Homo sapiens: one gene and its partners. The protein of the gene in region 4 purifies or fractionates together with the protein of the main gene of each other region. This does not show direct contact. Each region holds a gene or a part of one and is shown on either strand. Other genes may lie near its edges.

What was found. The genes of interacting proteins can lie anywhere in the genome.
Region 1: the proteins of MAP3K14 (region 4) and YBX3 purify together in Homo sapiens (tandem affinity purification; one large-scale study listed by IntAct). This does not show direct contact.
Region 2: the proteins of MAP3K14 (region 4) and NAV1 purify together in Homo sapiens (affinity purification with mass spectrometry; 2 studies listed by BioGRID and IntAct, with this or other methods). This does not show direct contact.
Region 3: the proteins of MAP3K14 (region 4) and RRBP1 purify together in Homo sapiens (affinity purification with mass spectrometry; one large-scale study listed by BioGRID and IntAct). This does not show direct contact.

The regions. Positions count from the first base shown.
Region 1 is NC_000012.12:10,702,824-10,706,323, forward strand, and holds part of YBX3 (Y-box-binding protein 3), read right to left. Parts: intron 1,326-3,500; coding exon 1,228-1,325; intron 1-1,227. UniProt on the Homo sapiens protein: Binds to the GM-CSF promoter. Seems to act as a repressor. Also binds to full-length mRNA and to short RNA sequences containing the consensus site 5'-UCCAUCA-3'. May have a role in translation repression.
Region 2 is NC_000001.11:201,808,127-201,811,626, reverse strand, and holds part of NAV1 (neuron navigator 1), read right to left. Parts: coding exon 3,478-3,500; intron 3,210-3,477; coding exon 3,017-3,209; exon of another isoform or gene 2,925-3,016; coding exon 2,756-2,924; intron 2,464-2,755; coding exon 2,366-2,463; intron 2,186-2,365; coding exon 2,090-2,185; intron 1,682-2,089; coding exon 1,522-1,681; intron 1,105-1,521; coding exon 869-1,104; intron 25-868; coding exon 1-24. UniProt on the Homo sapiens protein: May be involved in neuronal migration.
Region 3 is NC_000020.11:17,658,243-17,661,742, reverse strand, and holds part of RRBP1 (ribosome-binding protein 1), read left to right. Parts: intron 1-1,214; 5' UTR 1,215-1,235; coding exon 1,236-3,147; intron 3,148-3,500. UniProt on the Homo sapiens protein: Acts as a ribosome receptor and mediates interaction between the ribosome and the endoplasmic reticulum membrane.
Region 4 is NC_000017.11:45,286,021-45,289,520, forward strand, and holds part of MAP3K14 (mitogen-activated protein kinase kinase kinase 14), read right to left. Parts: intron 3,286-3,500; coding exon 3,216-3,285; intron 1,345-3,215; coding exon 1,134-1,344; intron 1,026-1,133; coding exon 411-1,025; intron 1-410.

The DNA.
Region 1 (3,500 bases), on a different chromosome or scaffold from region 4:
TTATGTGCCAGAGCCTGTGCTAGTCGGTTTTAAAATTAAATATTTAATTTGAATGGTAATTCTGTGGATGAGATTTATAACAAGAAAACCAAGAGGTTTACATGATAAAGTATACGGCTGAGCTATATAAAAGTGCTGCTTTTATAGGTTAAAAAAGGTCAAATATGACTTTCCAAGATCACATATCCAGGGACTGACAAAGCTGAGCCTCACACGCTACTGAATCCTTTTTGTTCCAGTAAGACATTTCTATGCCGTCTCTTTTATTTTCAAAGTCCCTAGTACTTAATCATTAGTGATTATGCCTAAAGCTGGAGGGAACCTTGTGAAGAAAAAGGATACGATCCTTTTACAATTATATTGGTGGAATCCTTTCCCAATATAATATACTTTTTATCCTTCAATAAAGCCATACTGACAAATTTCAAGGTAGCATAAACATCATTCAGGAAGAAGTTGTAGCTTTTCCACTTACCACAAAGGGTAAGATAAAAGAATGGGCAGGCTTATATTATAAAATGCTTCAAAGGGATCTTATGGAAGGAGTCTAGCCTAATTCAGTCTTCCAAAGGAATAAAGCACAAATAGAATAACCCAGCGTTCACTAATATTAACCTCAATGGTGGTAATAATATCTAATACATAGTGAGGCCTTTACTTTATCAGGTACCACACTAATTATCTTAGCTGCATTAGTACCTTTAATCCCCAACTATAGAATATCTCTTTGTTTTCAGACAGGGTCTCACTCTGTTGCGCAGGCTGGAATGCAGTCCAAGAACATACATCTAATGAACTGTAGAGTAGGAAGATAAATTCAGGCGATTTGATCATACCCTGATTTAACCCCTCTACTGGACTGCCTCAGTGATTAACAGTCACTATCCCAAATATCCTCTGACACTCAATTCTTCCTCCATCTGCAGCATTACCACAGAATTGCCCACCAATAATTTATCTGATTTATTTTGATAAAAATTAAGTATTAATTTACATCTTATTATAATTCCAGAATACAAAATGACGCTTTGGCGCAGAGATAACTAAAAATTCTAGTATTAAGTAGGTGGGAAATGTCACACCACCACCTGAAAACTCTGGCATGTAGTCAAAGCATTCACATCTTCTAGATATATAATAAATCCACAAAACGGAACCACACAGTCCTCATTCTACCATTGTGCACACAAGTCCTTTAACTGGCCATTAGTGGAAAATGCGACATACCTACGGTACCTTGGGCGGTAAGTTGGATTTCGATGAACCGGTCCCTGAAGTTGTGCTCCCTCTGGGACTCCATCCTTCATCTCTCCAATCTCACCAGCCTGGAGAGGCAATGAGAGCTGACAGTGAGTGTCACAGCACAGGGGATAAGATACAGTGCATACAGCTATGTTCAGAATTTTTTTTAGAAGTAAAAAACAAAATGCTTCATTACAAAATTAGGCACTCTCAGTTGCAACACAAACTATTTATGAGTAAATCTTCGTGAACGACTGAAAAGGAAGACAAACCTAGTCTGACTAGAATACTCATTTGCTTAGTCCCAGAGCACCTAACTTTATTTTCGCCTATCAATTTAACATTTTGAAATCGGATACATTTCATTCATCTCTTTAAATAAAATACTCTTTTATTTTTCTTTACAACAAACTTACTTTAAGCCAGTGGAATAAAATTAACTTATTGTACAACTTCCAGGGGAAAGAAAGAACAACTTAAAAAAACAAAAAAACCCACCAACAATGTCTGCAATTCTTGACCATACAGCCATAACTCAACTTTCTTTTCTTTTCTCAAAACATCCCTTCCTCCCCCTAAGAGCCAAATACTGTCCTTCATTATTTCATCAAGAAAGAGAAACAGTCAGAAGACAATTTCCACGTTCTCATTAGCAAATCTACCCAGCTCCCTGTATTTACATTAGAATTTTCTTCTCTCCCATTACCCTGGGTAAGTGGTCCAAGTTCATATCTGAAACCAACAGCCTCTCTATTCTCATCAACTAGACACAGCATGTTAACGCTATCCCTTCACTATGTTTTCACCTTTTCTATCATTTCCATCCAAGCATATATACCCAGTGAAATAGCACCCATCCTTTTCAATTTTTTAAAATTTTGAAATAAGCACAAAGTTACAGAAAAGTTAAATGTAATTCTCAGATCCCATTCAAGTTTCACCATTTATCCCAATGATGCCCTTTATAGCAAAAACACCGTTTAGAATTATGCACTAAAGTAAGTTATATCTTTTTGTTTGGAGCAGTTTTTTTTAATTTATTTATTTGAGATGGAGTCTCACTCTGTCGCCAGGCTGGAGTGCAGTGGCGCGATCTCAGCTCACTGCAACCTCTGCCTCCCTGGTTCAAGCGATTCTCCTGCCTCAGCCTCGCAAGTAGCTGGGACTACAGGCATGTGCCACCACTCCCAGCTAATGTTTTGTATTTTTAGTACAGACGGGGTTTCATCATGTTGGCCAGGATGGTCTCAATCTCTTGACCTCGTGATCTACCCACCTCAGACTTCCAAAGTGCTGGGATTACAGGCATGAGCCACCACGTTGGTTTTCATGACCCTGATACTTCTTTAAAGATTACAAACCAGTTATTTTGTAAAATATCCCTCAACTTGGGTTATTGGTGTTCACTAATGATTAGATATTGTTTTTGCATCCCCAGGGGGATGTCACAAAAGTGACACTGCATTCTCCTCACTGCATCCTGTCAGGTGGCATATAGTTTCAATTTGTGCCATTACTGATAATGTTCACTTTGATAAGTGGTTAAGGTGGTATCTGCCACCAGAGTCCTCCACTGTAAGTTGACTCTTTCCTTCTTTGTAATTAATGAGTACTTTGTGAGGAAGTACTTACAAAGTGCATAAATATACTATTCGTTATCAAATTTTTCAATATATTGGTTTATTTATTTATATTTGTATGGACTCATGGTTTTCTATTTTTTTCAATGAGTTGTAATCTGTTACTATCATTACTGGCCAATGGGAACCCCTTCAAGCTGGCTCATATCCTATTGATGTGTTTCCAACATTCTTTGAGTACTTCTTCGCTTTCTGGCACAACAAGATGTTCCAGGCTCATATTATACTTTCTCTGTCCCAGCTCTGAAATCAGCCATTTCTCCAAAGGGAATTCTTTTTGTTTGAGAATGTTATTTAAAAACAAAAAATTGGGGGACAGGTATGCTCAATGCTGTTACTAAGATATCACGGCTTTCAGGACCTTTCAGTAGACAGAACCATGGAACACACACACACAATGTTACACATATATGTGTGTCTATGTATGTGTGTATATATATATGTGGGTTTATGGCAAACACACGTGCCTACCTTGATCTGCCCATTTAATGGCTTTAGAAGTTGTTGGTGAGGTAACGGGTAAGGGAGAGACCAGGGGTAACTCTGCATTGTAAAAAGCAAATCAAATCAAGCAAAAATCTTGCTCTGATCCCTTATCTTCTTCCAGCTACTACCCCA
Region 2 (3,500 bases), on a different chromosome or scaffold from region 4:
GTTGGAAAGATACAGTTGCAGATCCTGGAATAAAAGAAGGCTGTGGGTCAGCACTTGGGAATAAGCAGCTGGATCGGCCTTGGAAATCAGGATTTTGAAGAAGTCTTACTAGATCTAGATTCCCCTGGGGCCTTTAGTTCCTTGCAAATTTGATTACAGCAGATTACCACAGAGTGATAAGCAGTGGTTGCAAAGGCTCTAAAGCAACCCTCTTAAGCAGCAGCCCCTAAATTCCCCAAAGTTGGGGAACATATGCTATTTCCTAGATGGATTTTCACTGGTACCATGGACTACTACTAATGGGCATGCCTCCCCGAGCTGGGAAGAGCAAAGATCTGAACCAACTCCATTGTATTAGGGTACTCAAGAGACATCATCAGGTTTTGGCAGGGGAGGGTGTAATATGTACCATTTAATTCTGAGTGCTTCTTCCCAGATAGCCCAAGGTCAGAGAGTAATACTGAAAAGAAAAGTAGAAGGAAGAGAACAAAAGAGAAGGGATGGGATTGACAGGGTTGGCAGACAGTGGGGTAGAAATGAGGAGAATGCAGTTTCATCAATGACCAACTGAGGAGGAAGGTGCACAAAGCAAGGAAAAGTGTGGAGAGGAAAGCCTTTCTCCATAAAGGCAAGGGAAAGTGTGGAGAAACAAGTTAAAGGCAAGAGGCTGGAAAGAAATCGTGGGGAGGGAAAGGAGAAGACTGGAAAAGGGGATAGATAGAGAGGGAAGGAAATGAACACAGAAGAGAAGAAAGATGAAGGCAGAGGTGAGGAAAAGGGAACAATGAGGCAGGAAGGGGCCGAGGAAGGGTCTTAGGGAAGGCTGAGGCATGAACAAAGGCTGGCAGGGGTGTCGGGGGGCAGCCACCTTGCAAGACTGCTGGTGCATGTTGAAGGTGCTGACGATGCCCTCTGTGACCTCACGGCCAGAGCGCTCCACCAGGTACTCGGCCAAGCGATTGGTCAGGTAGGTCTTGCCCGTGCCGCTGGGGCCCGAGAGGACGAGGCGCCGGTGCTTCAGCAGGAGGCTTATGTAGTGCTGCATCATCGGCTTGGGGATCAGCGTCTCGAACACCAGGCTGTCGACGCATTTCTCCTTCAGACCTGAACCCCCACCCCAGAAAGCATGAGTATTGACCAGGGTCTTGAGGATAGCAAGGGATCCTAAAGGGCTTTTCTTTCTTTATCTAGGAGCCCCCTGAAGAAACTCAGAGCCACTTGCCCCATGGTTCCATAAGAGTCCCTTAACCCCTAGTTTTGAAAACTTAGATCTTCTTTTTAGGGACATGCTGTGAGCTGGGGGTGAGGAGTGAAGCAAGAAGCCAAGGCTTAGCAAAAGTGTCCCTGGGAGCCAAAGTTAGGACTGGGTCTTACTCATCTTTTTATATCTCACATTACTTAAGCATCTTCATATTATACCTTCTCAGTGAGTTCTTGGTGAATGAATGCATGATGGATTATTTGATGATCCTGTCCCTGCCTTCATGCCACACCACCTCACCCCAAGAGACAAAGACTGACCTTTGAGGGAGACTGATATGTTATTGACACCTCGACGGCAAGGAGGCATCTCGGGGGGCTCTGCATCCAACACTCGTTTCACGTGGCTGATGCTGTAGCCATGGATGGACTCAGTGCTTAGTCCCAGGGTAGAGGCTGGGTCCATTTTAGAAATATAGTCCTGACAGAAAAGACAGGCAGAAGAAGAAGAAAATATACAAACACAGGTGTAAAAGCCACAACAAAGAATGTCTATCAGAGGAAACAGAAATAGATGGAGAAAGTGCAGAGCATATGCTTTTCCTAGGTAGCATTTCTCCATAAAGCCTCAAAGGTCCCCAGGATCCCAGTGCCTGGACGGTTTAATATCCTGTGAGAAGCCATGCATGGTGGCACATGCTTGTAATCCCAGCTACTCAGGAGGCTGCGACAGGAGAATTACTTAAGCCCAAGAGTTCAAGGCTGCAGTGAGCTGTGATCACGCCACTGCCCTCCAGCCTGGGTGGCAAGAGTGAGACCCTGTCTCTAAAAAAGTATATATATTCCACGAGAGGATGAACAACCTTTTTGAGTACAGGTATCCCTTTACCTTGAACACTTGGAAAACAGCTTCATCCAGCATCTTCCAGTCAACTTTTCCACTGACCTTGCTACAGCCCAGGAAGAATTCCTGCTGCTTCAAGTCCTGTAAGGCCAAGGAAGGAAAAGCTCTTGAGCTTCACTGCAGATGACTCCATGAACCGGGGTCCTAAAGGCCTTAGGAGTTGAGTTCTTTGGTTTTGGAGGTACCCAGGGTCCAGATTTTCTTGGATAAATGTAACAGTATTTGTTCATTCCCACTGTGGCTCTCCCTGAAGTTCCTTACCCCTTTGATGATGTGCTGCGGGGGCATCCTCACCACCACCCGGAGGGTCACTTCCTCCTTTGGACCACAAGTACTGATGCCATCCATGGGTGACAGGTCTGTGGGGATTGAAAAGAACCAACTGGTTTTAGGAGTACCCGCAGCCTTTCCTAAACTTTCCCATCATTATCCTTTCCAAAATAACTCTGTTTGCCACAGAGAAGGAATGGAGGTCCCAAACTCAAAAGTAGTTAAGGTTGAAGGACCATTACAACTCAGTGTCTTAGGACACTGGCATCTGCTTGGCTTCGGCATTGTTACCGCCCTGACCAAAGCAAGTGGAATGGTGTAACAGTGAAATAAGCCCTTTTCTTCCCTTCACCCTTATAGATTCTTCTCCCACACAGGTACCTGTGTCTGCAAGACTGGGGCCGAAGGAATGGGTGAGTGCCAGGCCTAGGGAGCGGCGTGGGGAAGATAATGCAGATGATCCAGGGACCTGCCCTGGAGTGGAGCCTGATGAGGGGCCTGGGGCTACCTTCAGTCGGTCATTCTCTGCTTTCAGCAGGTCCACCTCCAACTGTGGCAAGAACAGACAGGGTAGGGTGGCAGACTGGACAGACAGCAAGCCTTGGTCTTCCCTTTCCTGCAGCTGTCCGCCCAGACACTGACCTGCATGTTGTGCATGGTCTCCCGAAGCTGATCCAGTTGGTGGGCAGAGTTGAGGGCCTCCAAGCGGATGTCTGTAAGCTTCATTTCCTTCTCCCATAGCTCAGAGCGCAGCTCCGATACCTCCTTCTTCTCTGGCTCCTCCTCCTCATTTGCATGGAACAGCCTAGTGTGGGGGGCTGGGTGAGCAGGGCCCCTGTAAGATAGCAAGAGTCAAGCCAGGCTACATGAAGAAGCACTAGAGTTACTAGAGAATATTGAGAGGCATGGTTGGTGGTCTTGGCTTCTCCTGCCCATTGATATTCAATCAGCATGAGAAGAAAGGTCCATCTGTTGGTCTCATATGCCCAGGGAGAGGTCAGTAATAAGTACTGCTTGTCTAAGGTCTAATGGCCTCCTGTCAACTCTAGCCCACAGCTTACACTGGTAACAGGCTGGGTGGCAGGGAGCCAAAGAGCACTTACTCGGTGACATCAGTGCCCACGGA
Region 3 (3,500 bases), on a different chromosome or scaffold from region 4:
GCTGGGGGAGGCCTGTCCACTTCCCCTCCTCTCCTCTTCCACCTCCTTTTACCTCCCCTTAACCACCCCTTCTTACCCTTGTGTTCTCTTTGCTCATTCCATCGATCTTCTTTAGAGAGACTCGGGACTGGCTTGAATGTATCCAAATAAATACACCTCCTGGAGTTCCTCAGTGAAGTCGAACTTAGCCCGGGCTGTGGCAGGAAGGTGTATGAACCTGGATGCCTCTGACCCATTGGACTTTGGTCCATAGGCAGTGAGAATGGTGTTGTTCATTCTTATGGTTTGGGGAGTGTTGTCTGACAGAGGGGCCTGCTGACACTGTCTCCTCACCCTCTGTGCAGCTTCTGGATGTGAAATTCCAAACCTGGCATCTTCTGGGCCTCCCAAGACTGATTCTTCCTGTTTCCCAACATGCAAATTGCAGGCTCCATAACTCCTCAGGAGCTATTGCTGGCAAAAGGCTATTTTCCCTCACTGAATTTTTGAACACGTTTCAGGATTGTAATGCAGAAGTTTTTATCTCTGATCCTGGGTAGCAGCATTTATTGGCACTGGGGAAGAGGGAAACAACAGAGTGGAGATGGCACACTGTGGGCCTGCTGGCTAAAATGCTTGTGGCTGAAAGCCTGCAGATGTGTTTGGTTTGGTTCGGTTCACATATTTTTTAAATCAGTCAATTTCACGTTGAGAGAAAAATTTTTTAAAAGTGTCTGGCCTAACATGAAAAATCAAAACATCTTCCAACTCAGCAATCACATTTCTAGGGCAATCGGCCATGACAGAGTGTCACTGTCTAATTTTAGGTGGGGGCGGGTGTTTTTACTACAGTCTCCACCACTCCCCATGGTCTCACACCTGGCCTGTGTTTGTGCTCCTGTGCATCTTTGACCTTGGGTGGGGAATATCTTGCATCAGGGTCATGGCTGCTGAGGCTCCTGGGCGTGTGTGCTCCAGAGATAGGCCTCCACTCTGCTCTGACTCTGCTGTTGCTTTGTATGGGGACTGCTCATGCCTTGGGTACGAATCGCTCACTCCTAAAGAGGAGCAGGTGAGAATGTGGGACATCAGAGAGTGCCTGGGTTTGTTTCTTCTCTGAATTTATTAGCCTGAAGAAAGAATTAGTGAAACCTGAAGTTTGGTGGTAGGGTGGGGATAGAAACTGTTGAAGGCCTTGATTTCTATAAATAGTAACCTCCATGTATGTTTGACAGGTGAAAGGAAAGCAAGCCAGGATGGATATTTACGACACTCAAACCTTGGGGGTTGTGGTCTTTGGAGGATTCATGGTTGTTTCTGCCATTGGCATCTTCCTGGTGTCGACTTTCTCCATGAAGGAAACGTCATATGAAGAAGCCCTAGCCAACCAGCGCAAGGAGATGGCGAAAACTCACCACCAGAAAGTCGAGAAGAAAAAGAAGGAGAAAACAGTGGAGAAGAAAGGAAAGACCAAGAAAAAGGAAGAGAAACCTAATGGGAAGATACCTGATCATGATCCAGCCCCCAATGTGACTGTCCTCCTTCGAGAACCAGTGCGGGCTCCTGCTGTGGCTGTGGCTCCAACCCCAGTGCAGCCCCCCATTATCGTTGCTCCTGTCGCCACAGTTCCAGCCATGCCCCAGGAGAAGCTGGCCTCCTCCCCCAAGGACAAAAAGAAGAAGGAGAAAAAAGTGGCAAAAGTGGAACCAGCTGTCAGCTCTGTAGTGAATTCCATCCAGGTTCTCACTTCGAAGGCTGCCATCTTGGAAACTGCTCCCAAGGAGGTGCCGATGGTGGTGGTGCCCCCAGTGGGTGCCAAGGGCAACACACCAGCCACTGGCACTACTCAGGGCAAAAAGGCGGAGGGGACTCAGAATCAAAGCAAAAAGGCTGAAGGAGCCCCAAACCAGGGCAGAAAGGCAGAGGGAACCCCAAACCAGGGCAAAAAGACAGAGGGAACCCCAAACCAAGGGAAAAAGGCAGAGGGAACCCCAAACCAAGGCAAAAAGGCAGAAGGAACCCCAAACCAAGGCAAAAAGGCGGAGGGGGCCCAGAACCAGGGTAAAAAGGTAGATACAACCCCAAACCAGGGGAAAAAGGTGGAGGGGGCCCCAACCCAGGGCAGAAAGGCCGAGGGGGCTCAGAACCAGGCCAAAAAGGTAGAAGGGGCCCAGAACCAGGGCAAAAAGGCAGAGGGGGCCCAGAATCAGGGCAAAAAGGGAGAGGGGGCCCAGAACCAGGGCAAGAAGGCCGAGGGGGCCCAGAATCAGGGCAAGAAGGCCGAGGGGGCCCAGAATCAGGGCAAGAAGGCCGAGGGGGCCCAGAATCAGGGCAAGAAGGCCGAGGGGGCCCAGAATCAGGGCAAGAAGGCTGAGGGGGCTCAGAACCAGGGCAAAAAGGCCGAGGGGGCTCAGAACCAGGGCAAAAAAGTAGAAGGGGCCCAGAACCAGGGCAAGAAGGCTGAGGGTGCCCAGAACCAGGGCAAAAAGGCCGAGGGGGCCCAGAATCAGGGCAAAAAGGCCGAGGGGGCCCAGAACCAGGGCAAGAAGGCCGAGGGGGCCCAGAACCAGGGCAAGAAGGCCGAGGGGGCCCAGAACCAGGGCAAGAAGGCCGAGGGGGCCCAGAACCAGGGCAAGAAGGCCGAGGGTGCTCAGAACCAGGGCAAAAAAGTAGAAGGGGCCCAGAACCAGGGCAAGAAGGCTGAGGGGGCCCAGAACCAGGGCAAGAAGGCCGAGGGGGCTCAGAACCAGGGCAAAAAGGCCGAGGGAGCCCAGAACCAGGGCCAAAAAGGAGAGGGAGCCCAGAATCAGGGTAAAAAGACAGAAGGGGCTCAGGGCAAAAAGGCAGAAAGGAGTCCCAACCAAGGCAAAAAAGGAGAGGGAGCTCCCATCCAGGGCAAAAAGGCAGATTCGGTTGCTAATCAGGGCACAAAGGTAGAGGGTATTACAAACCAGGGGAAAAAAGCAGAAGGGTCCCCCAGTGAAGGCAAAAAGGCAGAAGGGTCCCCCAACCAAGGCAAAAAGGCAGACGCAGCTGCCAATCAGGGTAAAAAGACAGAGTCAGCTTCTGTCCAGGGCAGAAATACAGATGTGGCCCAGAGCCCAGAGGCACCAAAGCAAGAGGCTCCTGCCAAGAAGAAGTCTGGTTCAAAGAAAAAAGGTGAGCCTGGTAAGTAACTGATTTCTTTATGAACTTAGAAGGAAAGGCTGTCTTTAAATGACTTATGGATTCTCTCGGGGAGTGCCACCTGTATCAGTCAGCTATTGTCATAATAAGGCTGCGTAACAAACATTCAAAAAAAAATTCAGTGGCCTTCAACAGCAGTCATTTATTGTTGCTCATGCTTCTGGAGGTTGGCAGATGTGAGCTTTCTCGGTTGGTGGCTCTGCCTCAATCTGGTTTTAACTGGGTTGGTGACTCTTTGCTACAGGTTGAGCTCAGGTCAGTTCCATGTGTGGTCCTTCTGGCGCCCTCCAGGGCAGAGGCCCTTCATAGTTACAACAGAGGCACAAAAGGGCATT
Region 4 (3,500 bases):
GATAAAATCATTTAAAGTTATAAAATTATTTGGGAAGTTAACAAGAGGAAAAAGGGAAGGAGGTGGGTGGTGAAAACAGGTCCCATCCTCATCTTCCGTCTCTGGGGGCCATGATAACATCTCCAGTGGCTCCTGGCTGATTCCCCTTGTCCTCAGCATGTGTACTATTAATGCAGTGCCCACATTCAGCAAGCAGGAGGTGACCAACCAGAAGAACTCAGAACAGAAGACGCTAAAAAGGCTGTGAGAAGTGAGATTGGCGGAATAAGAGATGATACTTTTCATCCACAATGAGCACTGTCCTACTGTTTGATTTGTCACCACAGGCAAGAGTGACTCTGATAAAGAGAGAAAAGCATCCCCCAGGTTGCTGGTAGAGGGACATATACAGGTGCCGGGGGATTAGTTACCTCAGTGAGCAGGACACCCTCGTTGTCCTCAGTTTTGGGGCTGGGCTCCCGGGATCTGGAGCCCCTTGCTGCCCAGGTCTTGGCCAGGCTGGTCAGGCTGTGGGCCTGGCCTGAGCTCACGCTGCCTTGCAGAGCATGCACTAGGTATTCCTCCACAGAAAACTTCTCATGGGCACCACGAGACAGGCAGCTGGGCTCCAGGTGTGGGCCAGGCAGGGGCTTTGGACTGTCTACACAGGCCAGTTTGCTCAGGTGTGGGTCAGGCAAGGGTTTCTGGCTGTCTACACAGGCCAGTTTGCCCAGGAAGGACTCCAGAGGGTGAGGTTTCCAGGGCTGGAGAGGGTGGAATGGGAAGGGATGAGGCAGTCTGCTATAGGGGAAGGGGTGCGTGGGCAGGGGCAGGGGGCCTCCGTCCTGGGGGTGGTGCAGTTTCCACACGTGGTTCAGACATTGCAAGGGGCTGATCAGTTTGTGGAGTTCTGATCGAGGCAGAGCCGGCCGTAGGCCCTCGCCAAGCTGCTTAAAACAGAGTTGCCCAAGGCCTGGTTCCTTCAGAGGCTTGGTGAACTGCGGGGTGTTTCTAACATATGGGGCGCCGAGTGGAGACTCATCCTCCTGCGGGGGGAAACACAGCTATCAGCACAGAGGGCCAGGGCCCAGGGACAGGCTCCAATTTCAAGGCCCCATGAACCTGGGGTCTGGGCAGTGGGTGGAGGGTCTCACCTGCACTGGGATGGTGCAGCTCTCCTGCTCAGGGGTCCTGGGGAGGGGTTTGGCCAAGGCCACTCCTGCATGAGCCAGGGACTTTGAGCTCTTCTTCTTCCGTTTCTTCCGGGCTTTGCTGCGACGCTTTCCCTTCCAACACACACGGGCCATTTTGCCCTCTGTAGCATGGGCCACATTGTTGGGGATCTGATCAAGACTCTCGGACTGGCTGTCACAAAAGGGACAGATTTGCATATTGAGCACGAGGAAGCAGGAAGATGGACTGGTCCAGACACTTGTATCTGGACTCCTGCAGATCCAAGGTCAAATCCCAGGTTGCCATTCCTTGTGTGAATGCGGCAAGGTTTCTAAATCCCAAGGAACCTGTTTTCTCACTTATCTCACTTATAAAATGGGTTTGGTATTTTCTGCCATACAGGGTGGAAATGAAGTTTCAATAATTTAGTTCATTTAAAAAGCCCAGCTCAGTGTCTGGCCCCAAGGCAAGCTGCCGAGAAGCTGTGCTTGTTACTATGGTGATGGGGTACAGACTCAGCACTTCTTGGGGAGAGTCAGGGGAGCAGACACGGTTCGCTCACTGCTCTCCAAGGTGAGCTGCCCCTGGAGAGTTCCTAGGAGGGGGCCACGCTCATGGCAGGCCTCTCAGCTCTGACTGAGCAGAGCTTGTTTCTGTTGCCTCCGGATGGAGGAACAGGTAAGGCTGGTCACCTCCATTCTCACAGTTCCTGGGGGTCCCTGGCTGCTGTTGAAGGTGAACAGCCTGGGCTGCTGCCTGGTACTGGGGAGCCTGCCCTTCTCTGCTGGCCTCGGGGCTCATCACTGCCATGGCTCTAACTGGACTGGGATCCCTGCCAAGTATTAAAGGACCCGGCAACAGATGGGTTGCTGCAGAACAGCTGTGGAGCAGATCATGGCCTCAGCCACCCTCCCTTGGCCTCATCTTCTGCCCCCATGGAGAAGGCAGACTCATGGCAGTCCTGGGGACCACTGGAGGCCTACAGGCTTCTCTTGGACAGCTGAAAGAAGTGTGTCTATCAGAGGCTCCTACCCTGGGCCAAAAGGCACCCAGGACAGCAGAAGGAATCCCACCAAACTGAGCATTTCTTGGTTCCAAGGCAGCCAGCTGCCCTCCCCACAATCTTATCACTAGCAGGTTCCAAACTCCAATGATACAAAACCTGCCTGGTGATAGGGGAAGGAGCTGTTTCTAGCTTGAACTCTTGTTTTTTTTTTTTTTTTTGAGACAGAATCTTACTCTGTCACCAGGCTGGAGTGCAGTGGCACAATCTCGGCTCACTGCAACCTTCGACTCCTGGATTCAAGCGATTCTCCTGCCTCAGCCTCCTGAGTAGCTGAGGTTACAGGCATGCGCTACCATGCCCAGGGAATTTTTGTATTTTTAGCAGAGACGGGGTTTCACCATGTTGGCCAGGATGGTCTCGATCTCCTGACCTCGTGATCCACCTGCCTCGGCCTCAGAAAGTGCTGGGATTATAGGTGAGAGCCATTGTGCCCAGCACTTGAACTCTTGTTTCAAAAAATCATCTGTGGGGGAATGCAGAGCCTGGGAACAGACTCAGCCCCACCCTGGCTTCCTTTCTACCGGGCCACCAAGTCTATCTGTCCCCTCCTTTTCTACCGCCCGCATCCCTACTCGGTGCATCTCCCAGGAGAAAAGGCACCAGCAGGTTTCTCCCATAGAGGACAGTGGAAGGCCCCCCCCACCAACCCGGCCTGCGCTCACGGTCACGCAAGAGTGGGAAGCAGCTTCTGTTCCCAGCACCCTCCCTGTTGATGGGAAACGAGGGGGTGCATTAAGGACTCTGAGGAGAATAAAAATAAAATGTCAAGTTGATGTGGCCCAGAGGCAGTCAGCCACAAGCTGTGAAAAGCCTTTGAAAAGCTTATTTGGCTGAGAGAGCGGCTCAGCCAGGAAAGCCTGGGTGAGTTCCAGGAGCTGAACCACAGGTGCTGAGGGAGGGAGCCCGGGGTCAGCAGGAGCGGCCCAGGCAAGTGCTGGGGACGAGGGCGCTGGGTCCAGTCCCCACCTTCCCACTCAGGCTTGTCTCCCCTGCTTACCTGTACTGTTTGGACCCAGCGATGAAAATGCGTTCTGAAAAGGTGGGGCTGAACTCTTGGCTATTCTCACCTAAAGCAAAAGGAGTTGGATTAGCAGAGAGGAGAAAAAATAGGAATTTAGCACTTAGGGGAGAGACATTTTACAGAGATCCCCTCTGGCGCCTCTCCTTCCCCTCCTTTCCAGACAACCCCTGTCTGGCAGTCACCTCCCCACCAATGCCTCCTTCCCGCACTGTCTCTCCCCAGCTTCTCAGCTTACTGGTCAAGAGCAGACCACGGCCTCAG